4 linked regions of the Homo sapiens genome follow. The protein of the gene in region 3 interacts with the protein of the main gene of each other region in a pairwise test. Each region holds a gene or a part of one and is shown on either strand. Other genes may lie near its edges.

Region 1 (3,955 bases), about 99 Mb from region 3:
TATGTACATACTTAAATGGAATTCAGCAAATAAATGACTGACTGGATTTCGCTTCAGACTTGCTAGATTGAATAACTGTTAGGCACCTATTCCTAAATTCTATTTTTCAAGCCATGAACACTTTTTTTTTTTTTTGCATCATAATTCCCAGTAAAAGAGCTAGGTTTTTGTTGTTCATTTCTCCCATTAAATGACATCATATGTCACCTGTTGAGCCATGGATGCATGAGTAGTAGTAGATGTCTGCTGTAGTTGACAGCTGGGTGTGCTGTGTTTGGTGTGACTTTGTCTTGAATATTCTTTTGATAGGATCATGTTCCATAATGTAGTGCATACTGTCTTTGAAATAATCCTGAACTCCCTTGTCTAGCCCTATTTAAACCATCTTGCTTGTTTCCCTTTCATCACTGTTTCTTTTCTTACCCCTTCTCAAGCTGACTGAATCTTCTGATGAGGTAACAAAATAGCCTTTGCCCCTCATAGTTCCTTGTTCCTTCCCATCCCTCTAATTTCATAAGGTCATTAACACTAACCACCTCTCTCACAGTCTGGATTTGGCTTACCTACCTTGCTGATGTTTAGCGCAACATGATTTCATGTTTCCATTGCCAAAACAATTTTTTTTCCCAAATTGATGGTATTAAAAAAAGTACAGTAATCAGAATTAAAATTGTAGGCTGTAAATGAACATGCATTTTATGTCATTTCAATGAAAAAATAGATGCCTTTAATATTGCGAACTTCTCTTTTGTGGTCATTGCTATATGGGCCTCTATCACTTCGGCATCACATTAGCTGCCCAGCAAGCAAGACCAATGCCCCCACTTTTAATTTGGCAAGTGAACCTTAAAAAGAATCGATTAAAAAATTCTTACCCAGAGTCAAGATGAAAATCATCTTTTCACTCTGGAGAAAAACAGCTCCTTACTGGACTGAGGCTGTCAGACGTAGACTTGGGTCATTGCTGGAAGAAACATAGAAAGCAGCACAGCTCCGAGGTCCTTTTTCATCAGATGTGTAAATATGGCCTTCTCTCTTCAGAGCAGATTGCCTGGCAGTCATCATCCCTCCTGTCTGTCTCCAGCCCGGCTGCTCATGCAGTGTCTCAAGCTTCTTGCATTTGCTGTGTTATGTGGTTTTTGAGTAATCTTAACATATAGCTGACTGCATTACTGAGTAACGTGGGACATTTTCATATCTTTATTATGTTAATTCATCTGTCCTTCAAAAGCATCTGAGTTTAGCATTTGACCTGCTTTTGACTTTAGCATTTGATTCTTTTCCAGGCTGCAGCTATGACTCCACCAGAGGAGGAATTGAAGAGAATGGGCTCCCCAGAGGAAAGAAGGCAGAACTCCGTGTCAGACTTCCCACCCCCTGCTGGCCGGGAATTCATTTTGCGCACCACTGTGCCGCGCCCTGCTCCCTACTCCAAAGCTCTGCCTCAGCGGATGTACAGTGTTCTCACCAAAGAGGACTTTAGACTTGCAGGTGCCTTTTCATCAGATACTTCCTTCTTCTGATTCTTCTAGCATTACTCGTTGGTGGCTTCAGAGACAGTGCTGCCTCCTCCTGAGGGAGGGAAGGTACCAGGGAGAACCTGGGAGGTCCTGGAGAGGGCCCTGTCCAGTTGGGTGATCAGGAATCAAACCAGCATCGGAAAGACTTCCCAGCACCAAGCTTGAGCTGTGTCGTTTCGTGGAGGGGGCAGCGAGGATGGGCTTGAGCTGTTGAGAGATTTCTGCCCTAGAGATGGCCTTTGTATATGGGGGGGTGGTGGGGGGACACAAACACATCAGACACTCCGTCCTCACACTGGCAGGACGGTGTTCATCGCATTCTCTTCTGTGACCAGCCTCTAGGCTAGCGGCTGCATTCGTGGTCTGTGCAAACACTTCGTGGTTCTATATATCAGCAGCAAGTGTGCAAAATAAAGGACCTGTTAACTCAGATTTCTGGATATTTTGGTGGTAGCTTCTAGTCCCAGAATCTGTGTTTTTAAAATACTACATGACATTCTGTCTATTCAATCACCTGGTGGTCATCTTTCTTGTACTAATTAACTGTTGATGAGCATTTTGGATATTCTAGGAGAAAGCCTATAATTTCACATAGTTTCTCTTTTTCATGTAACTGTAACCTAAATGTATTACTTCTGATAAAACTATATATCAAATGTCACTGCAAATTAGTTTTATATCTGTCATGTGAGATTTGTCTTACTTATTTTTCTTTTGGTTGCCATGGAAGTTATGGCCCTGAAAATCGTCTCCCTCCCCTTCTCTTGCTGTACAGCATGCGTTCTCTTTTTGTGGTTGCTGGCTGGGTACTGTATTTAATGAAGTAGAGAATAGCACTTGCAAAAATACAGTCTTGGTACCTAGAGACTGTCATGCAGATAGTATAATTTGGTATATGTGCTAATGCATTGAGTAGAGGATTATTTTAACACACTATTTTGCTTTTGTATTTTAGTTAAAATAATCGATGGGGATGTGTAGCCCCCCCGTGTGAGGATGACATCACCACATTTCTAGTTTCATGGAGCTCAAGATGTCTTGTGTCTGTGTGGCTAGATGGCCTCTGCTTGGTAATCTTATTTTTAGGCCTAAAATTCCCACTTAAATCCAAAGTAAAAATGGTTATACTGAAGCATAAACCTTGCCTGTGTAATTTTAAAAAATTAATAGAGCTGTGCAAACCCTGTTATTTTTGTAAAAAAAAAAAAAAATACATATCTATATATAATATGTGTGTGTGTGTGACATATGCACACGTCTCTGTGTATGTGAAGTAGGGGAGGCCCTGGGGGATGACCTCCCAGCCTTTATGATGCTTTTCTCTATGCTGCTGGACTTCATTCTTACTGGTCCACGCAGATGCAGGCGGCCTGAGGCCAGTGCTGTACCAAGTAGAAGACGGTTCCTAAGGACAGAGTTTGTCTGTTTTCTAACAAAGAAAAATTCTACAAAGGAGAGGTTGGGCGTTACAAAGGCATTGTGAATCTAATAAAAGGAAAGTGTCGCTTTCTGTGGCGTTTTCTTTCATTTTCTCCCGCTGAGGCATTTCAGTCTAATTTCATGTGGTTTTGTGCTGTCTCAGCTCTAATGTTTGCAGCCTGCTGAGCCTAACAAGGCAGTGGTCTCAAGAACATTCTTTGTGCCTTTTTAAAGTACTCCATTTTATTTTTATGATAGTTATGTATTTATTTCACAGATATATTTAAGTACCCACTTTGTGTCAGGTACAGTACAAGCAATGAAGATAAAACAGAAACCAAAACACACTCCCTTACAGGGAAAACTGACACCACGTTGCCACAAAATGTTGAGTATAGTCAACTCTGCTGTGTGGATCGGAGGGCCTGCATTTATCCTACAAATAATTGAATGTAATCCTACATTCATGTATTCATTGGCAGTACGGAGTAATAAATGCAGCAATGTCATAAAGTGTTGTAGGAGTTTCTTCACCCAGGCTTTGAGGATCAGGAAAATTACCCCAGAGGGTGTGATTTTGGGATTGAGACCAGAAGCTGAGTAGGCACTGGGGAAAGCATGGGGGGCGTATGGGAAATGGCTTGCAGAGAACCAGGCATTCCTCCAGCCCTGTGTGCAATGAAATCATGATTTTCATTGTGAAGTGCTTTATTTCTCCACCTCTTCAATCTGGTCTCGGCCATGTCTTTCTTTGGTCAACAGACAGAGACTTGACAAGTCCTTGCACATTGGGGCTTGCCCTCCCTTCTTGCCAGGAGCCTTGAAGCCACTGTGAAGAAGGCCACTCTAGGGTGAGAGTTGGGGCAAAAGGTAACTGACAGGAGGGGGCAGAAAGCGTATTACAAGCAGAGGAACGGAATGGGCAAAATCCCAGAAATAAGGGAAAATGTCTATTTGGGGGGCAGCCAACATTTCTATTTGGCTGAAGTGTGGTATCTAGAGTGGGAAGGGGCAAG
Region 2 (7,036 bases), on a different chromosome or scaffold from region 3:
GTCACCCAGGCTGGAGTGCAGTATCGTGATCACTGCTCACTACAGCCTCAATCTCCTGGGCTCAAGCAGTCCTCCTGCCTCATCCTCCAAAGTGGCTGGGACCACAGGCACATGCCACCATGCCTGGCTAATTTTTTTCATTTTTGTAGAGACAGGGTCTTACTATGTTGCTCAGGCTGGCCTTGAACTCTCAGCCTCAAGTGAGCCTTCTACCTCAGCCTTCCACAGTGCATGAGCCACTGTGCCTGGCCTAGTTTTTCACTGTTACACTTTTTCTGCTGAGTGACACTCTATTTCCATTTTCATTTTTATTTTTATTTCTTTTTACTATAACAGTTTGTACAATAAACATCCTGAGATGTTTTCTTGTGCACACATTTTTCTGTTACACACTTATTTAGTTAGTTGCTGGGTAATGAAGTTTAGGTAATATTGCATTTATTATTCATTCTTCAACAAATATTTAGGGTGCTTGTATGGTCTTGGCTATCTGTTGACTAAAAAAGTGAAACTGATTAAATTCTAAGAAGATTACATAGTTGGCTGGATTATTTTTTTCTTTTTTCTTTCTTTGTTTTAATTAAGAAAAGTGGGACTGGTGTAGTGTTGCATGCCTGTAATCCCAGCACTTTGGGAGGCCAAGGCAGGAGGATTGCTTGAACTCAGGAGTTCAAAACTAGCCTGGGAAACATGGTAAAACCTCATCTCTACAAAAAATACAAAAATTAGCTGGGTGTGGTGGTGTGCCTGTGGTCCTAGCTACTCAGGAGGCTGAGGTGGGAGGATTGCTTGAGTCCTGGATGTCAAGGCTGCAGTGAGCCTAGATTACACCACTGCATTGCAGCCTGGGCGACAGAGTGAGACCCTGTCTCAGCTCCCAGCACTTTGGGAGGCCGAGGCAGGTGGATCACCTGAGGTCAGGAGTTCGAGACCAGCCTGACCAACATGGAGAAACCCCGTCTCTACTAAAAATACAAAATTACCCAGGCGTGGTGGCGCATGCCTGTAATCCCAGCTACTCGGGAGGCTAAGGCAGATGAATCGCTTGAACCTGGGAGGTGGAGGTTGCAGTGAGCCGAGATCCCACCGGCCATTGTACTCCAGCCTGGGCAACAAGAGTGAAACTCCAACTCAAAGAGAGAAAGAAAAAGAAAAAGTGGCTCTTCATTGTAAAATTGAAGCATGAGACAAATCCATGGTGCTGTTTGGGATTCTTGTGCAGAAACCTTTTCTCAGCTACTCACTGGCCGTGTGACCTTGGATTACTCACCCAACCTCCTCTTCCTCATTTCTTTGGTAAGATTAAGGGGTAGGAGTAAGCATTTACAAAGGCACATTCCTGTTCTAAGAGTCTGTGAAAATGTTGCTGTGTTAGTGACGCATTTTTACCCTAATGGTAACCACTCAGGCTGAAAGGAGTTTAAGGCATTTAAACACATTGGCGTCCTCATTCCTTCAAATTGCTGGGCACATTCTTTTTTTTTTTTTTCCCTAAGTTCATGTCAGACACATGTTACACATGCAATCATCATGCTCGTGAATTCTGCAAAAGGATCACCAGGCGTCTTGCCTCAGAGCCTTTGCATGTGCTCTTCCCACTACCTGGAAAGCACTTCTCTTAGACGTCTACATGGCTGTGTCATCCCTTCAGGTGTTATGTTGAGACACCTCCTTCCAGTCCAGCCTGCAACCTCATCCCTGCTTTATTTACCTCCAAGGCACTTACCACCTTCTAGCTTGCCGTGTATAGGTTGAGTATTCTTTATTCCAGAATGCTTGGGACCAGAAGTGTTTCAGATTTTGGATATTTTTAAAATTTTTGGAGTATTTGTATTACATGGTTGAACATTCCTGATCCAAAAATTTGAAGTGCTCCGGTGGGTCTTTCCTTTGGTGTCGTGTAGGTGCTCAAAGAGTTTTGGACTTTGGAGCATTTCAGATTCAGATTCAGATTCCTGGTTTAGGGATACTCAATCTATAATTTATATCAGTATTCTGTACTAGATTATGAGCTCTACAAAGGCATGGGGTTTGCCACTCTTGTTTACTGTTGTATTCATGGTGTCTAGAACAATGTTGACCCCTAGCAGGTAAACAGATGTTTGATGAACAAATGGATATGCTTTTTGTTGTTATTTTTTCTCTGTGGAATTTCGCCTTTAACACTTACTGGATATCCTAAATGGTGCTGGTATGTGCACCATATCTCATATTTACAGATTCCTTCAGGGTAAGAAAACTTATGTCTTCTAGGGAAACCACTCCTTTTAAATCTATGTGATTTATCCTATAAGCCACTTAATGTCTTCAGACTTTTTTTCTCCCAACATTTTGCCTAATCCTGAATTTAGAGGAAAACATAAGTAACACGGTGCTTGGAAGCACACCCATCTTTCCTTTTGTGATAACCTGGTTTCCAATGCGATGAATGTGGAAGATGCATAACCAGTAGATGCTGACTGTATTCCACACGACATCTGCAGTAACAGGCCAGCAGCCATCCCAAGCAACATGAAGCACACTGCATTTCTTTCTTTTTTCTTGAGATGGGATCTTGCTCTGTTCTGGAACTCCTGGGCTCAAGTGATCCTCCCACCTCAGCTTCTCAAATAGTTGTGTCTACAGGCGCGTGCCAACACACCTGCCTAGTTTTTCTTTTACTTTTTACAAAGACAAGGTCTCCTTATGTTTTCCAGGCTGGTCTTGAACTCCTGGGCTCAGAAGGTCCTCCTGCTTCAGCCTCTTGAAGTGCTGGGATTACAGGCATGAGCCACTGCCCCCGGTCCACACTGCGTTTCTAAGAACAAACAGTGTATTTTGTTGGATTGTTGCAGAGTGTACATCATCATTGCCCTGACTTTGTGCTTTTATCTATGAGGATTTTTTTGGAGGGGGAGGAGGGATGTATTTTTCATGATGGAAGGAAAATGAGAACCTTAATCTGAAGATGTTGGAGCAACTAATATGTAGAAAGGTCCCTAGATATACTCTAAGAATTGCCACATCGTACAGTCCTTAATTCATGGCACAAAAAACATTCACTATTATAGCACTAATGCATTGTTTCAGTAGAAGCCAACTGAATTTTTTCTACCTTGCATGATGAGTATAGGAGTTGACAAAACAAAGCTAAATATATCAGAGGCCTCTTGGATGCATTTTATATGGTGATAGGGAAAAGGAGTCTAGATTTTTTTTCCCAGTGAACTATATTAGGTATACGATACTGATGATATCCTTTAAAACATTACTAGAATACTGAAGTACACCATTTACATTTCTTATTGTATCCTCTGTAATAAAATGATATTGAAAGAAATCAGTATATTATGGATCCAGATAGGGTTAAACTTTAAGCTGAAAATCATAAACATAGAATTATATGATTATTAGTAAAATGTTGCACAATTTAAACAGATTTTTTTTTTTTTTTTTTTTTTTTAGACACAGAGTCTCACTCTGTTGCCCACGCGGGAGTGCAATAGGGTGATCTCGGCTCACTGCAACCTCCGCCTCTCAAGTTCAATCAATTCTCCTGCCTCAGCCTCCTGAGTAGCTGGGACTGCAGGTACATGCCACCATGCCCGGCTGATTTTTGTATTTTTAGTAGAGATGGGGTTTCATGTTGGCCATGGCTGGCCAGGCTGGTCTCGAACTCCTGACCTCAAGTGATCCACCTGCCTTGGCCTCCCAAAGTGCTGGGATTACAGGTGTGAGCCACCATGCCCAGTTTAAAGATATTTCTTCCCTTTGTAGTTAGTCATGAGCTGAAAAGTACAGGTGGTTCAACAAAAGATAAAAATTGTTCATCAAATGTCAATTTTCTAGCTCCAGCCATCTACAATGAACAAAAAAATTAGCCTCGTCTTTGACATCAGGCCCACTGAGAGATATCAGCAAATCTAATCAGTATTTTAAAAAGTAACTTTTGGCCAGGCATGGTGGTTCACACCTGTAATTCTAGCACTTTGAGAAGCTGAGGCAGGAAGATCACTTAAGCCCAGGAGTTAAGAGACCAGCTTGGGAAACATGGCGAAACTTTGTCTCTAAAAAAATACAAAAATTAGTTGGGCATGGTGGTGCATTCCTGTAGTCCCAGCTACTCAGGAGGCTGAGGTGGGAGGATCACCTCAACCCATGAGATCGAGGGTTGCAGTGAGCCAAAATCTTACCACTACACTCCAGCATGGGCAACAGAGTGAGACCCTGTCTAAAAAAATAAATAAATACAAATAAAAAGTAACTTTACTGACTTAACCATGTGTTTAAAAACAAAGCAGTACCTTCTTCTGTTTAACTGAAGGAAGCATGCCTTGTTCTTCAATTTTATATTCTATGTGTCCAGTAGAGTATCTGCCACACAGTAGGAGATTAACATCTCTCAACTACTCCTGCCTCAGAGGTCATTAAGCCCCTCATGGCGGTCATCAGATATAGAGTTGTCCTAGTCTAGAGGAGAATTAAACAATAATCAAAAGGCAGAAATCAGCAACAAAGTGCGAAGTCGAAGTTCAGAAGATGTGAAAGAAACACTTTTCCTCCTTATCCACTCTTTGCGGAAGTTTGTGCATTGTGTCTTGATTGATTCACCAGCTGGGTTTTTGTGATCAGTGTCACCTCATCTAACCTTACTTGCGATCTAGGCCAGTCCCTTCTGTAGTGAATGGCATTCACTGGAAATTAGTCTTGCCGTATAATTCCATGACCATATGTCACACCGGGGCAAGGGGACACCTTTGGGAAGTTCTTCATGATTTGCTAATCCCTGCTTCTAAATAAGCAGAATCTAGTTGTGAGAAAAGGTGGTTGTAGTCCAAGAAGCTTACTGTACAGTGGAAGGAAATACATGGGCTCTTTTTTTTTCTTTCCTTATTTATTTATTTATTTTCTTAAATTGACATTTAGGCCAGGCACAGTGGCTGCTGCCTGTAATCCAAGCCCTTTGAGAGGCTGAGGAGGGCAGACCACTTGAGCTCAGGAGTTCAAGACCAGTCTGGGCAACATGGCACAAAACCCCATATCTACTTTAAAAAAAAAAAGTATATTTATATTGCAGTGAGCCAAGATCACACCACTGCACTCCAGCCTGGGTGACAGCGAGACACTGTCTCAAAAAAAAAAAAAAAAGGAAAGAAAAAAATTGACATTTAGTGAACACCAAAGCTTATTATCAAGGAACCAGTTTCCCTTACACTTATTTATTATATTACCTTTTAAAGCTCAACTTAATTTTTCATATCCATTTTAGGTATTGTTATCGATAAGATATTCTGTTTTCTTATGATCTAGATAAGTTCAATTTGCTTAATTAATTTATTTATTAAATTTTTTATTTCCATGGGTTATTGGGGAACTGGGTGTTTGGTTACATGAGTAAGTTCTTTAGTGGTGATTTGTGAGATTTTGGTGTACCCATCACCTGAGCAGTATACGCTGCATCCTATTTGTAGTCTTTTATCCCTCACTCCCTTCCCACCCTTTCCTCCTGAGTCCCCAAAGTCCATTTTGTCATTCTTATGCCTTTGCATCCTCATAGCTTAGCTCCTACTTATGGGTAGGAATGTACGATGTTTGGCTTTCCATTCCTGAGTTACTTCACTTAGAATAATAATCTCCAATCTCATCCAGGTCACTGTGAATGCTATTAGTTCACTCCTTTTTATGGCTAAGTAGTATCCATCATATATATATATATATGTGTATATATATATATATGTGTATATATATATGTATATATATGTGTATATATATGTGTATATATATGTGTATATATATGTGTATATATATGTGTATATATATGTGTATATATATGTGTATATATGTATGTGTATATATATACACATATATATGTGTGTGTATATATATATATACACACATATATATATGTATATATATACACACACCACAGTTTCTTTATCCACTCATTGATTGATGGGTATTTGGGTTGGTTCCACGTTTTTGCAATCAGTTTGCTTAATTTAGCTGTTCTTTTCAAAGAGATAATAACTCTAAAACTAACAAGCAGCATCTACCTCTTTTCACTTTCACTAAGTCTGTCCAGTTCCTTTTGCTGGCTGAAGTGATAGACACTCAGAAAACAGGCAGTGTTAACTGATGGAGAATAAAAGGCCAGAGAAGCCTCCTTTTGCACTAGGGCAGCACAGAGTAAAGTGTTTTCCATTTTTTTTTCTTTTTTTTTTTTTTTCTCTAAGAGGAATCCATTTGCAAACCAGAGAAAACCATCCAGCAGTGATTCTTAAATATTCGTGAGGCATAGATGGACACTTGCAAATCTGATGGGGGTTTTGGACCATTCTTCCTTGGAGAAACTGATGTATGTACAATGATGCTATAAATTCATAATTTTTATCAGTCTCATGAGTTTCATGGAACTCCTTGCCCTAAGGCCATTTATAAACCTCCTTGGAATACCCAGGTTAAGAACCCACAATGACCACCTCTCAAAGTTTGAGAATACAATTACAAGGGCTCTATTTTTCTATCATGTGCCGCTATTCCCCACCCCACTGCCACCCACAGTTCGAAAACCTATCATACATGAGTGAAAAGTAATAATTGTGGGTTTTATACTCTCAATTTGAAAACTAGTCATCGGTTGCTATGTCAACCAGTCAACATACTATTGACCATTTTTAGGATCTATTTCTATTGGATGTAATAAAATGCAATTTATATGCAATGAAAAGGTGGTTTTGTAATATGACTATTTCACAGAGACCTGATGAATTCTAAGGATGAGTCTTAAGTTTCTCACCCCAAGGAGTTGGGTCTGTTCTGTCTTCAGCTTTTGGTGGCAGCAGTTTCCCAGTTTTGCTGTTAACAGGAAGGAATGGAGATGTCCCAGGCCCCACCTGACAATTCTTGTAGTCTCACAGGAGATGTCCTGCGCCCCACTTGACAATACTCCTAGGCTCACAGTAGGTGTCCCAGGCAACCCCTGACAGTACTCCTAGGCTCACAGATGTCCCGGCCCCCCGACAGTACTCCTAGTCTCACAGTAGGTGTCCCAGGCACC
Region 3 (7,036 bases):
AGATAAAGTTGCTGCTCTATGTAGGACACAGAACTAGAAGAAAAAGAGAACTTTTAGCTACAAATGTATATTTTGTATACATTTACACAAAACATACATTTTACATGTACATTTAAAAACCATTAAGTAATGAGAACTAAATGTTAATGCAAAGATCTATGTAGCAATTTTTTAAAGGTTTTAAGAGGCTATACCCAACAAGGATGAGTTCTCTCAACACACATTAGAATTTCCCAGAAATGAGATACCAAAAGGCCATGTCTCTTAGGGTGCCACTTGGAGATAGAAGCCCCTAACATTCGCCCTATACCATGAGGCTTGTGACACAACAAACAGGATCCCTAGGGAAGTCAAAGAAGGGTGCAAGTTTCTGCACACATTTTTATTCCTAACTAGCAGCACGGCAGCAGCCACGCGTACATTACTTCAGAATCAGCCTTGGGTACTACTGTCAAGGCAGCAGTGGCGGCAGGCTGCAGTGGGGTCATTAGGCAGGTGCGAGAAAGAGAAGCTCAATTAGCCCATACAGTGCCCACCCTACTCCCTTTTCTCAGGCCAAATGAGACCACTTTTCTACCTTCTTTCACTTCTGACATTTGCATTAAAACTAAGTGGTGTATTTAGGCAGCCAAGCCACACTCTCATCTGTGTTAAAACAACAACAAACCACCCAAAAAAGGGGAAGGAGTATTCTCCCCTTGAGCAATATCCCCCTCCCGGGCAAAGTGTCGTATTATTGGTCCCCAAGGAAGAGGAACAGTTAACCAGCTGTGAACTTTCAGGATGGGTGGAAAAGAGCATTTTCAATGACCCGACTTCCCCACCTTCCCACACACATTTGGGTAAATACATCTCCACATTGCACTCCCGTCTTCATTTTCTCTGACTACAGTCTCCACTGTAGTCTAAATCCTTGCTGCTTTTCCACCCAGTCCTCACAATACAAAGCCAAGACAAAACCACAACACATGCACACAGACAGCTCATCAGAAGCAGGTACAGTATAGATAGAACTGGGCTTACAGACAGGAGCCAGCGGCCCGAGCATGAGGAGCAGAATTAGATGGGTGCTGCTTCCCTAAGGCATGCGGTATAGGTAGGTTCACAATTATAGTCCTAGGTTTTCAGAGTAAAGAATTAAAAATCATTTTTCCCCAGAGGACTCTGTTCTTTGGGTCATAACATCCTTCCATGCAGTTAAATGCTAAAATAGCTAGAGAATGCTTCAGAAGCTCATTCTATCTCTGGCCCTCATAGAGGCCTAGGAACCCGATATAATTAAAATTTAAGACATGTTCTTTATGTTCGTCTCATTCCTGTTTCACATCTAGAAGAACGAACCTCAGAACAATCCAGCTTTCATACCAATGCTAGCACAACACAAAAGCAAACAAAGATGTCAGGTATTAAAAAAAAAATTTTTCAGAATTTTATAGGGAGAAAAAGTCCTCCATCAGAAAAAAAGCTTATTTTTTAAAATGATGTCAACTCAGTCTGTTCTACTCCAGTGTCAACCCACTAGTGTCTAGCTCATGCTTCTTACTCTCACCGCATCAAGACTCTTACAAGTGAAATGTGTGATTCACTTTGAGCACCCTGTGTATACTACTGAGGTTCCCCTTTCATGACACTATGGTTTAAGAAAAGACCATCAGAGGTTTCTAATGTCTCAGAAATCTTCATCTTCCTTGTGCTCAGCTAACTTTAATGGAGAAGAGAGAGAACCCAGAGAAGAAGACTGTTACTAGAAGAGGATTGCTCTCAAAATTTGATCAAACACTACAAAGATGCATTTTGTGATGCTTTCAAAATCTGGTCCCTGAATACCTGCTACTTTAAAAAAATATTTCATCGTAAAGTATTAATTTTGCCTCTAATTAAGTTCTTCCGTCCCTTCTTTATCATCCAAACTTTGCTCTTTTCTCGGCAAAGCAACTCAACCTCTCACTCTTCTTTTGCCTCATCAATATTCCCACCCTGTGTGAGCCTCACCTTGCCTCTAAGATTTGTGGCTGCTTTTTCACTTTCCTGGGTTTATGCAAGTCCATTCTTTTTATTTCCCCGCTTCCCTCCCTGTGTCTTACATCAGTCCCTTTCGTATTCCCTTTGGCACTGTTCACAGATGTGACTCTTCCTTCCTTCATCCGTCCTCACTAATGATCTGTCCTCCTTTCCACTGTCCTCAAGATGACAGAGACCACCCTTCTCAAATTTCCCAGTGCCAATCTGCCAACATCTGATACCCACATGATTATGGTGCCATCTCACTAATTTTCTTCTACTACCTCTCTTGATGTTTATAGTTTAACTGTGGAGATTATTTCCAACCCAGAACCTCCAATAAAACTTAAATTATATAAAACCATGATATATAATGTTGGTAGAAGTCAGTCATGTAGCTAATCCTCACCCTGCATAATAAGATTAATGAAAGTTGTGCATTGGGAAGTTACTGTCTAATGTATTAGCAAGGCGATGTATTTACTGACTAATCCAAACCTCCCAGCCATCGCACCTATACCATTATAAAACTCACCTTTCAGAATATAATCAGTTAACAAGCTCGGAACTTTTTCACTGTCCTCCTTCATGGCACGAAGAACTGCAAAATAGAAGAGGGGAAAAAAGACAACAATTAAAAATTTAGATCAAAAATATTATTTAATTTCAATCATTGTGGCCTTAATCTTCCTTAATTATAGGATATAACTGACTCATACAAATTATAGGTGATTTTCCTGATAAGGGGATACAACAATAAAGGCCCAATAATTTATTTTAGTGGAGTAAGTCCACAAGAATTTATTTTCGGTAAGAATATCCCACTTACCTGAGAGTTGCTTCCCTGATTTAAAATTTCCAAACAGTGGAGACAAAAAAAGAGGAACTGGGTTATTTACAAGGAGCCTTCGCTCTGTAATAATACCGGAAAGTGGGTTACTATAATGTGCACCTCAATGAACTCTGTGCAGCAAGAAAACCTCAGTGCTGCAGATCAAGCAAACTAGAGAAACTCTTAAAGAAATGGACAGCTATACCCTCCAACAAGCGTATCCTGTCAGACTCCTTAGAAACTTTCAAAGAAAAGACCCAAATGAAGAACAGACTTCCATGAAGCAGCATCGGGCATCTGCCTGGCTGTTGCCTCCTCTGCACTAGGGAGAAACCTGGGAGAATTAGCCTCATTCTAATTTGACAAATTTATCTTCTAAGTAAAAACTAAAATAGAAAAAGCAGCCACCTAGTATAACGTTTTTCTTTTTTAAGCTAGACCATTCAGGTTGAGATAAACTCACAAATATTATACTTTAACAGAGATTGCCAACTCAAATTTTCTCCAAAGCATCCTGGTAAAAATATTTCACTGTTTTTCCCCACCAATACGACAAGGCAAAATAGTGTAACTGTCAAATCAGCCTTCCTGGGTTTAAACCCTGGCTCTGCCACTTCCTAATTGTGTGACGCTGAGCAAGCTACTTAACCACTTTTGCACCAAGCTCTTCATCTGTGAAATGAGAATAATAATTAGATTTAATCTCAAAGGTTTGTTATGAGGACTAAGCTACTAATTCAGATATAAAGGTCATATCATAGTGCCTGGCACATAGTACATGCTATGTATTAACTGTAACTAACACTACTCAAATTATTTAAATTTTTATTAACTATTATTATTGCACCCAAAATCCCCTAATAGCTTTTATCAGGAAGACTATATATCCATAAACACTGTGACTGTCTCCACAGGGCTCTTCTTTTGGAAAGAAAAGGAGCTTTGGACCCAAATATGTCCAGAGATTCCAAACTGTGACAACCTATAAAGACATCTCGATGCTGGAATTATGATGACTTTAGTTTGACCAATGAAGTATTTGTTCTTGATCTGAGAAGCTGAGGCCTGCCAGTAATTCCTGGCTTATGAGCAATATTTATGTTCCCTTCTTTAGAGGGCTACCATGTTCAGTATTTCTGCTTCCAATCATGTTTAAAATTTTTTCTAACTTCTAAATAAAATCACATACCAAAAACCAGCATCATTAAAAGTATAATTGCCTGGGAATTAAGAGATCCAGCTCTGTAACTAACCATCCCCCTGTGTGATCTTGGACACATATAACTTAAGTTCTTCCTGAAAATAAGAGGGCTAGCTACCCAGTTAATCTCTTGATTTTTTATTTCAGACTGGCTGGCATCACTTGATTTATCCATATTTAAATATAAAATTTTTAAAGAATTATTCACCAAAGGAAAGAATAAAAGCTCCAAGTTAGCAGGCAGGGAGCTAAGAAATAAGACACTTGCTTCTACTCTTAGGTTTTCCTTGCCCATTCCTCTTAAATTTCCAAAATAAGTATCATCATCCATACTCATCCATGTGATGCTCTTTCATTTGGTTCCCCCCTAATTAGCAAGTATCATAAATATTTACCATAACAAAGACCTAACAGATCAGCAAATTCAATCCCTCCATTTTAACGGCTAATTGATAGTAACTTAGCCAAAATCATACATATATTAATCTATTTACTGTGAGGTAAATAGAACAAATATTTTTTATCCTAGTTTTTCAATGTAAGCAAAAGAGAGTAAGTAACTTCCAAGGATATCCCTGAAAATAACAGGGATAGAACCAGAATTCAAGGCTCATTTGCGGCCATCATAAGAGATACTCAATATCATGTATATTTAAATCTAACAATTTTTTTTTTAAGGCAAGCCCCTTGAAGGTGCATTATCTTTGTCTGCTTTGTTCACTAAAGTATCCCAAGTGCCCAGATCATGGCCTGGTACAGAGTAGGCCTTCACTAAATATTTGCTGAATGAATGCATGTTCTTAAAACATCACTGTCAATTTATGTTCTACCTATAACTACTACCTCGGGTTCTACATTCATAAGAAATAAAAAGTGTTTACCGTAAATCTTTCCTATTCAGTTACTGACAATCATAGATATATAAGATCCATAAGGAATTTTATTTATGATAAATGGATATGTTCTTAAACATGTAAGAGATGATGGAGATTTAGGTTATGCTTTTTCCCAAAATTTTAGCTCATAAATATTTCACAAGGTAAGAAAAACAGAAAAAGTACAAATCAACACTAGAGTTACTGTTGTATTTAATGTCACAGCCATTTTTGGCTTCATTCTTATAAAAATAAACAATTATATGCATCATTTACATCCTAAACTGACAAAACACTAACAACAAAATCAGCCAACTAAAGTCAGGTGTTTACCAATCAGCAAAAGGAAATCAGGTAATAGTTTCATTTTGTCTTTGCTCACTTTTTGTTAATATTTGAAGATCTTCAACAGACGGTGGTCCGTTTTTTTTCTCATAAGGAATGACTGTAGTCAAATACTGCCAAGTTTAAAAAAAAAAAGTGTCACTTAAATCGGAATTACCTTATCTGCAAAAAATTTGATACTGTTACTAGAAGGTCTATCTGATAATATAAAACACAAGCTACTTTGGTAATGAAAACACAGGTATTGTATGGGAATAAAGTTATCTTACTATCTCAGATGGAGCTCATTTTTTTTTGCCCACCTCTATTTGCTTCATACAAACCTAATGTCAACAGAAACAACCACCTTTTTGCATTTCAGTTATTGAAAATTTCATAGGACTAAGTCTGAGGATGGTTTACTCAATTTGTTCATTTTTAAAGTGAAGTATTATCTCACATTCTACTTGCATATTTTTCAACACATTTTAAAAATAGCAATTTAAACTAAAAACATAGTTTTAACAGTTCTGCACAATAAAGTAATTTCCAACAGCAAAATAATTCTGTTTCAGACCATTTTTATTCTGGTTGAACAAATGGTCCACATATATAACATGACAACTTTGAAAAACACACACTAGCTTCTTTCAGAAGCTAACAAAGACACACTTAAATCGTTTTAGAAATGCGTTACTATTATTTTAAATTATTGGGTAAGTCATTGTAAACGTTTTTAGGCATTAAAGGAGAAAAGTTAAAGTAGAGAATGGCCTAAGGGGAAATGAATAATGAAAATTAATGTCTGAAATTGAGATAAACTTCCTAGTTCACTACTTGTAAAGGCTCACAAGTAACAGCGCCATGTCTTTTAACTAATCCCATGAAAGCATAATCCATAAATGATTGTCCAGATTTTCCTGTTCTTACCATCCCACCAAAAAAATAGTTCCGTGCATTTCACATATGCTCATATAGAAAGCCAGTGGTTTTTACCTGGAATCTCTTAGCTCCACCCATTATTTAACCTCGTGCCCTAAATCTCAGCTCTGTGGCTAATCCTCACTGAGTGATCTTATCCTGCCCATAACTGAAAAACAGGATAAAGAAAGCTGCTTTACAGTAACTGGATCCCTAAGTCCAGAAAAGTGGTAAAACTGCATAGTTCAATCTCTGAGACACGTTAAGTGTCCCACCGTCTTTTTGACGTAGACTTCTTGCAGGTGATGCCCAATTGTATAATCGAATGTTTCTTTGTAAAGAACAACAACAACAAAAGGCCAGAAATGATGTCCTCCTGGCTTCACTCTGCATGTGTGAGGCAACCTGGAGAGGCACCAGGCGGCTGCACCCTGGCCCGCTCTCTGGCTACCTGGCTGCATCTTCAGGCCTCCCTGCTCCACTGACAGTCTGGAAGATTCCTTGTCTTCTTTTGAGGTTGAGAGAGGTGAGAGGCAACGGAATGAAAACAAAAACTCAAACATCCCTTCATGGAGCTCATTGATGAGCTGCAAATGTCAGTGTGAGGCTTCCCTCTTTAATAGGAATGATCTCCCTTCCGGAGAAACACTTAACTACCTGCAGTAAAAACTCCAGGCATTTGATCTAGGCGTTCTTTTGCTAAACTTCCTACAAGCTACATTTTGTACACCTTCTTAATCTGCACAGAAGAGCTAACTTAAAGACTTTTCTTTTTCAAGGTGAAAATTTCATATAGTGAAAGGTAATTTTAAGCATACCCATTAATGTGAATGTTTCCCATGTTCATGATATTCCTTCAATCATTATACAAAAATGTGAATA
Region 4 (7,219 bases), on a different chromosome or scaffold from region 3:
CCACTTTCTTTTGTAAATTGCCCAGTCTTGAATATGTCTTTATCAGCAGCGTGGAAACAGACTAATACAGTAAATTGGTACCCGTAGAGTGGGGCACTGTTTAAAAGATACCCAAAAATGTAGAAGCAACTTTGAAACTGGGTAACAGGCAGAGGTTAACAGTTTAGAGGGCTCAGAAGACAGGAAAATGTGGGAAAGTTTGGAACTCCCTAGAGACTTGTTGAACGGCTTTGACCAAAATGCTGATAATGATATGGACAATGAAATCCAGGCTGAGGTGGTCTCAGATGGAGATGAGAAACTCATTAGGAACTGGTGCAAGGGGGACTCTTGTTATGTTTTAGCAAAGAGACTGGCAGCATTTTGCTTCTGCCTTAGAGATTTGTGGAACTTTGAACTTAGGAGAGATGACTTAGGGTATCTGGCAGAAGAAATTTTTAAGCAGCAAAGCATTCAATAAGTGACTTGGGTGCTGTTAAAGGCATCAAGTTTTAAAAGGGAAATAGAACATAAAAGTTCAAAAAATGTGCAGCCTGACAATGCCATAGAAAAGAAAATCCCATTTTCGGAGGAGAAATTCAAGCCAGCTGCAGAAATTTGCATAAGTAACGAGGAGTTGAATGTTAATCTCCAAGACAATAGGGAAAATGTCTCCAGGGCATGTCAGAGATCTTTGCGGCAGCCCCTCCCAACACAGGCCCAGAGGCCTAGGAGGAAAAAATGGTTTCATGACCCAGGCCCAGGGTCCCGCTGCTGTGTGCAGTCTAGGGACTTGGTGCCCTGTGTCCCAGCCACTCCAGTCGTGACTAAAAGGGGCCAAGGTACAGCTTGGGCTGTGGCTTCAGAGGGTGCAAGCCCCAAGCCTTCACAGCTTCCACATGGTGTTGAGCCTGCGGGTGCGCAAAAGTCAAGAATTGAGGTCTGGGGCCGGGTGCACTGGCTCACGCCTGTAATCCCAGCATTCCAAATGATTGTGAGGCCTCCCTAGCCATGTGGAACTGTAAATCCATTAAACCTTTTTCCTGTATAAATTACCCAGTCTCAGGTATGTCTTTATTAGCAGCATGAAAACAGACTAATACAGAGGGTCCTTGGATCTTGTGCAAGAAAGATTTCAGGGCAAGTCCACAGTGCAAAGCAAAAGCAAGTTTATTAAGAAAGTAAAGTGGTGAAAGAATATCTACTCCATAGACAGTAGGGCGTTCCTGAAAGTAAGAGGAGAAACGTGTCCACCCTAGGTAGAATGCTTGCTTATATATAGGATAAAAAAAGATCATGGGGAGATGTGCTCTGCCACAAGGGTTTGTGATAAAGGATTAATTTTTTAAATTACTATATTTTACAAGAATCAACATTATTATCTTTAAAGCAAAATTAGGAATGCTTCTATTCTCAAAATATCGGGATCTCAGGACACTCCTAAGTACGGGTCTGTTTAGTAAATGTTATTAGTCTGTTCCCTTAACCATAAACATCTAGAGGCTAGGAATACCTAACTTCCTGGGAATGCAGCCAAGCAAGTCCCAGCTTCACTTTTCCTAGCCCTCACTCAAGATGGAGTCACTCTGGTTCAAATGCCTCTGACAATACTGTACTACAGTTTTACAAGATGTTACCCTTAGGGGAAACTGGGTAAAGGGTACACAGAATCTCCCTGTATTACTACTTCTCATATTCCATATGAATCTACAATTGTCTCAAAATAGTTTAATTTTAAAAATCTAATCAGGTGGCACAGGCTTCTCTTTACCTCTTGTTTAAAACCAATAGTTTCCCACTGGTCACAGTGGCTCACGCCTGTAATCCCAGCACTTTGGGAGGCTGAGGCAGGCAGATCACCTGAGATCAGGAGTTCGAGACCAACCTCAACAGGGAGAAACCACGTCTCTATTAAAAATACAAAATTAGTCGGGCATGGTGGTGTGTGCCTGTAATCCCAGCTACTCAGGAGTCTGAGGCAGGAGAATTGCTTGAACCTGGGAGGTGGCGGTTGTGGTTAGCCGAGATCGCGCCATTGCACTCCAGCCTGGGCAACAAGAGTGAGACTTGGTCTCAAAACAACAACAACAACAACAAAATAGTTTCCCATTGTTCATAAGATATGAGACCCCAGACATTAGGACTTCACTTCACCAGGATCACCAGACTCCTCTCAGAGCTCCATCCATAACTCGCATTCTTTTTTTTTTTTGGAGACAAGGTCTCGCTCTGTCTCCCAGACTGGAGTTCAGTGGTGTGATCTCGGCTCACTGCAACCTCCACGTCCTGGGTTAAAGCAATTCTCCTGCCTCAGCCTCCCCAGTAGCTGGGATTACGGGCACGCACCACCACACCTGGCTAATTTTTGTGTTTTAGTAGAGACAGGAATTCACCATATTGCCCAGGCTGGCCTTGAACTCCTGAGCTCAGGCAATCCACCCGCCTCGGCCTCCCAAAGTGCTGGGATTACAGGCCAAAACTGGCATTCTATCAGGCTTCCCACTAGACATAGTCCTGTAACCTAAGGCAGGTCCAGTTCCCTGCAGCTTGCAAATTCAAATAACAAGTAAGAGAATGGTAAAAAGAAAGTGACTGCCACGGGCACGGTGGCTCACGCCTGTAATCCCAACATGATCCAAGGCAGGCGGATCATGAGGTCAGGAGATCGAGACCATCCTGGCTAACATGGTGAAACCCCATCTCCACTAAAAATACAAAAAAATTAGCCAGGCATGGTGGTGGGCACCTGTAATCCCAGCTACTCGGGAGGCTGAGGCAGAAGAATGGCATGAACCCAGGAGGCAGAGCTTACAATGAGCCAAGATCACGCCACTGCACTCCAGCCTGGGCGACACAGGGAGACTCTGTCTCATAAAAAAAAAAAAAGAAAGAAAGTGGCCAGGTGTGGTGGCTCACACCTGTAACCCCAGCACTTTGGGAGGCCAAGGTGGACGGATCACCTGATGTAAGGAGTTTACGACCAGCCTAGCCAGCATTGTGAAACCCCCTCTCTACTAAAAACACAAAAATTAGCCAGGCGTGGCAGCAGGGGTCTATAATCCCAGCAACTGACTAGGGAGGCTGAGGCACCAAGAATAACTGGAACCTGGGATGCAGTGGTTGCAGTGAGTGGAGAGTGCGTCATTGCACTCCAGCCTGGGTGACAGAGGGACTCTGTCTCAAAAAAAGTGGGGGGTGCACGGGACTTGGTTGACCTGGATGGCATGCAAGGGGTGGGGAGGGACCAAGGAGGTGCTGGGTCTATGGGACTTGCTCCTATGTATCCATCAGTGATCTGGTTGGCGCCATGGAGGCTGGGGCGAAGGCGGAGGGGGGGTGGGGGGTAGCGGGGAGCTAGGTTGTAAATTGACAGTTGTCCCCAGGCAATCCCCTGGTATGGGAAAGTTCCAGAGGTCCCTGGTTTAAGCTTCGGTCCTTGGAACTAATAAGCGAACACATAATTAGATAAGCTTACAGTGTAGAGAGTGTCTGGTGGAGAGAAGGTAAAGGTTAATTGGATTTTTTTTTTTGACAGGTGTCATTCTGTCGCCCAGGGTGGAGTGCAGTGGCGTTATCGTGGCTCATTGCAGTCTTTACCTCCCAGGGCTCAGGTGATCCTCCCACCTCAGCCTCCCCAATGGCTGGGACTACAGGCCGATCTCGCCTGCCTCGGCCTCCCAAAGTGCTGGGATTACAGACGTGAGCCACAGCACCCACCCTATAATTGCATTCCTAAAGAGCTAAATAGGAGGTGGGGTGAAAGGAGAAAAGTAAAAATAATTCATTTTTCTAAGAAAATGGGTAGTTGGTCACACTCCTATTTACTAGGGCCTTTGCACATGTTCTCATCTGCACTGTGCTTCCCTCTCTTTTTCTATTTAACTATTTATCTTCCAGATCTCAGCTGCAGCCGCAGTTTCTTAGGATAACCTTCTCCAACTTCTCGAAGATACTCACCATGATTAATTGATTAGTGTGTTATACTAGGCAGATAGTTCCACGAAGAGAAGCTCTGTATCTCTCAGTCTCACTGTATGCGGAGTGGGTAGCTCTGCACCTAGGATGCTCAATAAGAACGGTATTTATGAACTGAACGACAGAAGGTTGAACGACTGCCCACTTATGCACTGAGCCTTCCGGAGGGACGAGTCTACAGGGGTCGCGCGTCGTAACGACGTCACTTCCGTCGGAAGGTTCTCATGAGGAGCCACTCAGATTCCTGTCACTTCTCAAAGCATCTCCGTCGTGAACATGGCCCTGCCACCATTCTTCGGCCAGGGTCGCCCAGGCCCACCGCCCCCGCAGCCGCCGCCTCCTGCTCCTTTCGGCTGTCCGCCACCGCCGCTGCCCTCCCCGGCTTTCCCGCCGCCTCTCCCCCAGCGGCCCGGCCCTTTTCCGGGGGCCTCCGCCCCCTTCCTTCAGCCTCCGCTGGCTCTGCAGCCCCGAGCCTCCGCGGAGGCCTCCCGCGGCGGAGGCGGCGCTGGCGCCTTCTACCCGGTGCCACCACCGCCGCTGCCTCCTCCGCCGCCCCAGTGTCGGCCCTTCCCGGGGACCGACGCCGGCGAGCGGCCGCGGCCACCGCCTCCCGGCCCGGGGCCGCCCTGGAGCCCGCGGTGGCCTGAGGCGCCGCCGCCGCCGGCCGACGTGCTCGGGGATGCGGCCCTCCAACGCCTGCGCGACCGGCAGTGGCTGGAGGCGGTGTTCGGGACCCCGCGGCGGGCAGGCTGTCCGGTGCCCCAGCGCACGCATGCCGGGCCCAGCCTTGGCGAAGTGCGCGCGCGATTGCTCCGGGCTCTGCGCCTGGTGCGGCGGCTGCGCGGCCTGAGCCAGGCCCTGCGCGAGGCCGAAGCCGACGGCGCGGCCTGGGTCCTGCTGTACTCCCAGACCGCGCCGCTGCGCGCGGAACTGGCCGAGCGGCTACAGCCGTTGACCCAGGCTGCCTATGTGGGCGAGGCGCGGAGGAGGCTGGAGAGGGTCCGGCGCCGCCGGCTGCGGCTTCGCGAGAGGGCCCGGGAACGCGAGGCCGAGCGGGAGGCAGAGGCCGCGCGGGCAGTGGAACGCGAGCAGGAGATTGACCGCTGGAGGGTGAAGTGTGTGCAGGAGGTGGAGGAGAAGAAGCGGGTGAGAGCAGCGGCCGCTCATGGGGGTAGGAGTGGTGGTGGTTGGAACCTGGAGCAGCAGGAGGCTTTAAACTTCCATTTCCCAGGGCTAAGCCTCTGTTTTACGCGCAAAATGAAGCGATAGCTAACCTTCCCAGCTCATACCACCATGTTAATTTTGTGTTAATGATGTGTGGTACACAAAAGTTCCAGGTGCACTGTAAAATCCTGTAAACACAAAGTATAGGATTACACGGTGGCACTGCACGAATGACAGGTCTCCCCTATCCTGCTCCAACATTGTCCACTTACTCTCAAAACCAGTAAGTGTCTAGTTCCTTGTGTCTTGTACTGCCCTAGGTGGTTTTAAGAATACAAAATACAGGCCGGGCGCGGTGGCCCACGCCTGTAATCCCAGCACTTTGGGAGGCGGAGGCGGGTGGATCACGAGGTCAGGAGTTCAAGACCAGCCTGGCCAAGATGGTGAAACCCCGTCTCTACTAAAAATACAAAAATTAGCCATGCGTGGTGGCGGGCGCCTGTAATCCCAGCTACTCTGGAGGCGGAGGTTGCAGTGAGCCGAGATCGCACCACTGCATTCCAGCCTGGGCGACAGAGCAAGACTCCGTCTCAAAAAAAAAAAAAATAGAGAACTTGGGGACCCTACCTCAAGGAATATATATACTCTAATTAGCTGATGGGGCAATAGTGATTTCCCTAGGATTCTTTTGTTTACAAGTTTTAAACCATGTATCCCCAGGTTCAGCAATGGTGTTTCGGAGCATTTACTATATATATATATATATATACACATACATACATATATATACACATACATATATGTATGTGTATATATATGTATGTATGTGTATGTGTGTATATATATGTATGTATCTGTGTATATATAGAGAGAGGTGTGCTAAGGTCATTACATATACCAGATTTTGAATCTTTATAACAGCCTTGAGAAGTAGGAAGTATTATGCTAATTTTACAGGTTAGGAAGTTGCATAGAGAGGTTAACTTGCCAACAGTCACACAACGAGTTTGTGGCAGTTTCCCATATTTGATCCCAAGTTGTCTAATTCCAAAGCGTATTGATCTCAGACTCTTTAAGCAGGGCCAGGGTAAAACTGGAAATTGTTCAGATGGTTTTCTAAGGCATTTTCTTTCTTTCTTTTTTTGAGATGGAGTTTCGCTCTTGTTGCCCAGGCTGGAGTGCAATGGCATGATCTTGGTTCACCACAACCTCCACCTCCCGGGTTCAAGCGATTCTCCTGCCTCAGCCTCCCGAGTAGCAGGGATTACAGGCATGCACCACTACACCCCAGCTAATTTTGTATTTTTAGTAGAGACAGGGTTTCTCCATGTTGGTCAGACTGGTCTCGAACTCCTGACCTCAGGTGATCCACCCGCCTCAGCCTGCCAAAGTGCTGGGATTACAGGCGTGAGCCACTGCACCTGGCCGTCTAAGGCATTTTCATTACCTTTGATTGCCTCTGGGGTTCCCTTTCCTCTTCCTCATTATTTCTATTATTATTACATTATAATACATAATGAAATAATTATACAACTCACCATAATGTGGAAACAGTGAGAGCCCTGAGATTGTTTTCCTGCAACTAGACAGTCCCATCTGGGGGTGATAGGAGACAGTGACAAATCATCAGGCTTTAGATTCTCATAAGGAGCCCACAACCTAGATCCCTTCCATGCGCAGTTCACTTCTTTGTGCTCCTATGAGAATGTAATGCTGCTGTTGCTGATCTGACAGGAGGCGGAGCTCAGGTGGTAATGCAAGCAATGGGGGAGTGGCTGTAAATGGAGATGAAGCTTCACTTGCTCGCCTGCCTCATCTTTTGCTGTGTGATCTGGTTCCTAACAGGCCATGGACTGGTTACCATCCGTGGCCTGGGGTTTGTTGACCCCTGGCTTAGAGATCTGTGGGAGATCATGTCAGTATAGCGTGGTGTGTGTTAGGAATTCAACTATAGGTGCTGTAAAAGCCCAAAGAAGGAACATCTGATTTACTGAGGGAATGCTTCCCAAATGATACAATGACACGTAAGCTGAGTCTTTTTTTTTTTTTCTGAGACAGAGTCTCGCACTGTTGCCCGGACTGAAGTGCAGTGATGCCGTCT

The links.
Region 1: the proteins of FEZ2 (region 3) and RAB3GAP1 interact in a two-hybrid assay, tested with the Homo sapiens proteins (one study listed by BioGRID).
Region 2: the proteins of FEZ2 (region 3) and RAI14 interact in a two-hybrid assay, tested with the Homo sapiens proteins (one study listed by BioGRID).
Region 4: the proteins of FEZ2 (region 3) and PDCD7 interact in a two-hybrid assay, tested with the Homo sapiens proteins (one study listed by BioGRID).

Annotation. Positions count from the first base shown.
Region 1 is NC_000002.12:135,167,259-135,171,213, forward strand, and holds the end of RAB3GAP1 (rab3 GTPase-activating protein catalytic subunit), read left to right. Parts: intron 1-434; coding exon of another isoform or gene 435-455; intron 456-1,286; coding exon 1,287-1,523; 3' UTR 1,524-2,475; coding exon of another isoform or gene 2,476-2,501; 3' UTR 2,502-3,452; downstream 3,453-3,955. UniProt on the Homo sapiens protein: Catalytic subunit of the Rab3 GTPase-activating (Rab3GAP) complex composed of RAB3GAP1 and RAB3GAP2, which has GTPase-activating protein (GAP) activity towards various Rab3 subfamily members (RAB3A, RAB3B, RAB3C and RAB3D), RAB5A and RAB43, and guanine nucleotide exchange factor (GEF) activity towards RAB18.
Region 2 is NC_000005.10:34,659,304-34,666,339, forward strand, and holds part of RAI14 (ankycorbin), read left to right. Parts: intron 1-7,036. UniProt on the Homo sapiens protein: Plays a role in actin regulation at the ectoplasmic specialization, a type of cell junction specific to testis. Important for establishment of sperm polarity and normal spermatid adhesion.
Region 3 is NC_000002.12:36,553,147-36,560,182, forward strand, and holds part of FEZ2 (fasciculation and elongation protein zeta-2), read right to left. Parts: intron 5,368-7,036; coding exon 5,292-5,367; intron 2,603-5,291; coding exon 2,537-2,602; intron 34-2,536; coding exon 17-33; 3' UTR 1-16. UniProt on the Homo sapiens protein: Involved in axonal outgrowth and fasciculation.
Region 4 is NC_000015.10:65,130,793-65,138,011, reverse strand, and holds the start of PDCD7 (programmed cell death protein 7), read left to right. Parts: upstream 1-4,203; 5' UTR 4,204-4,230; coding exon 4,231-5,100; intron 5,101-7,219. UniProt on the Homo sapiens protein: Promotes apoptosis when overexpressed.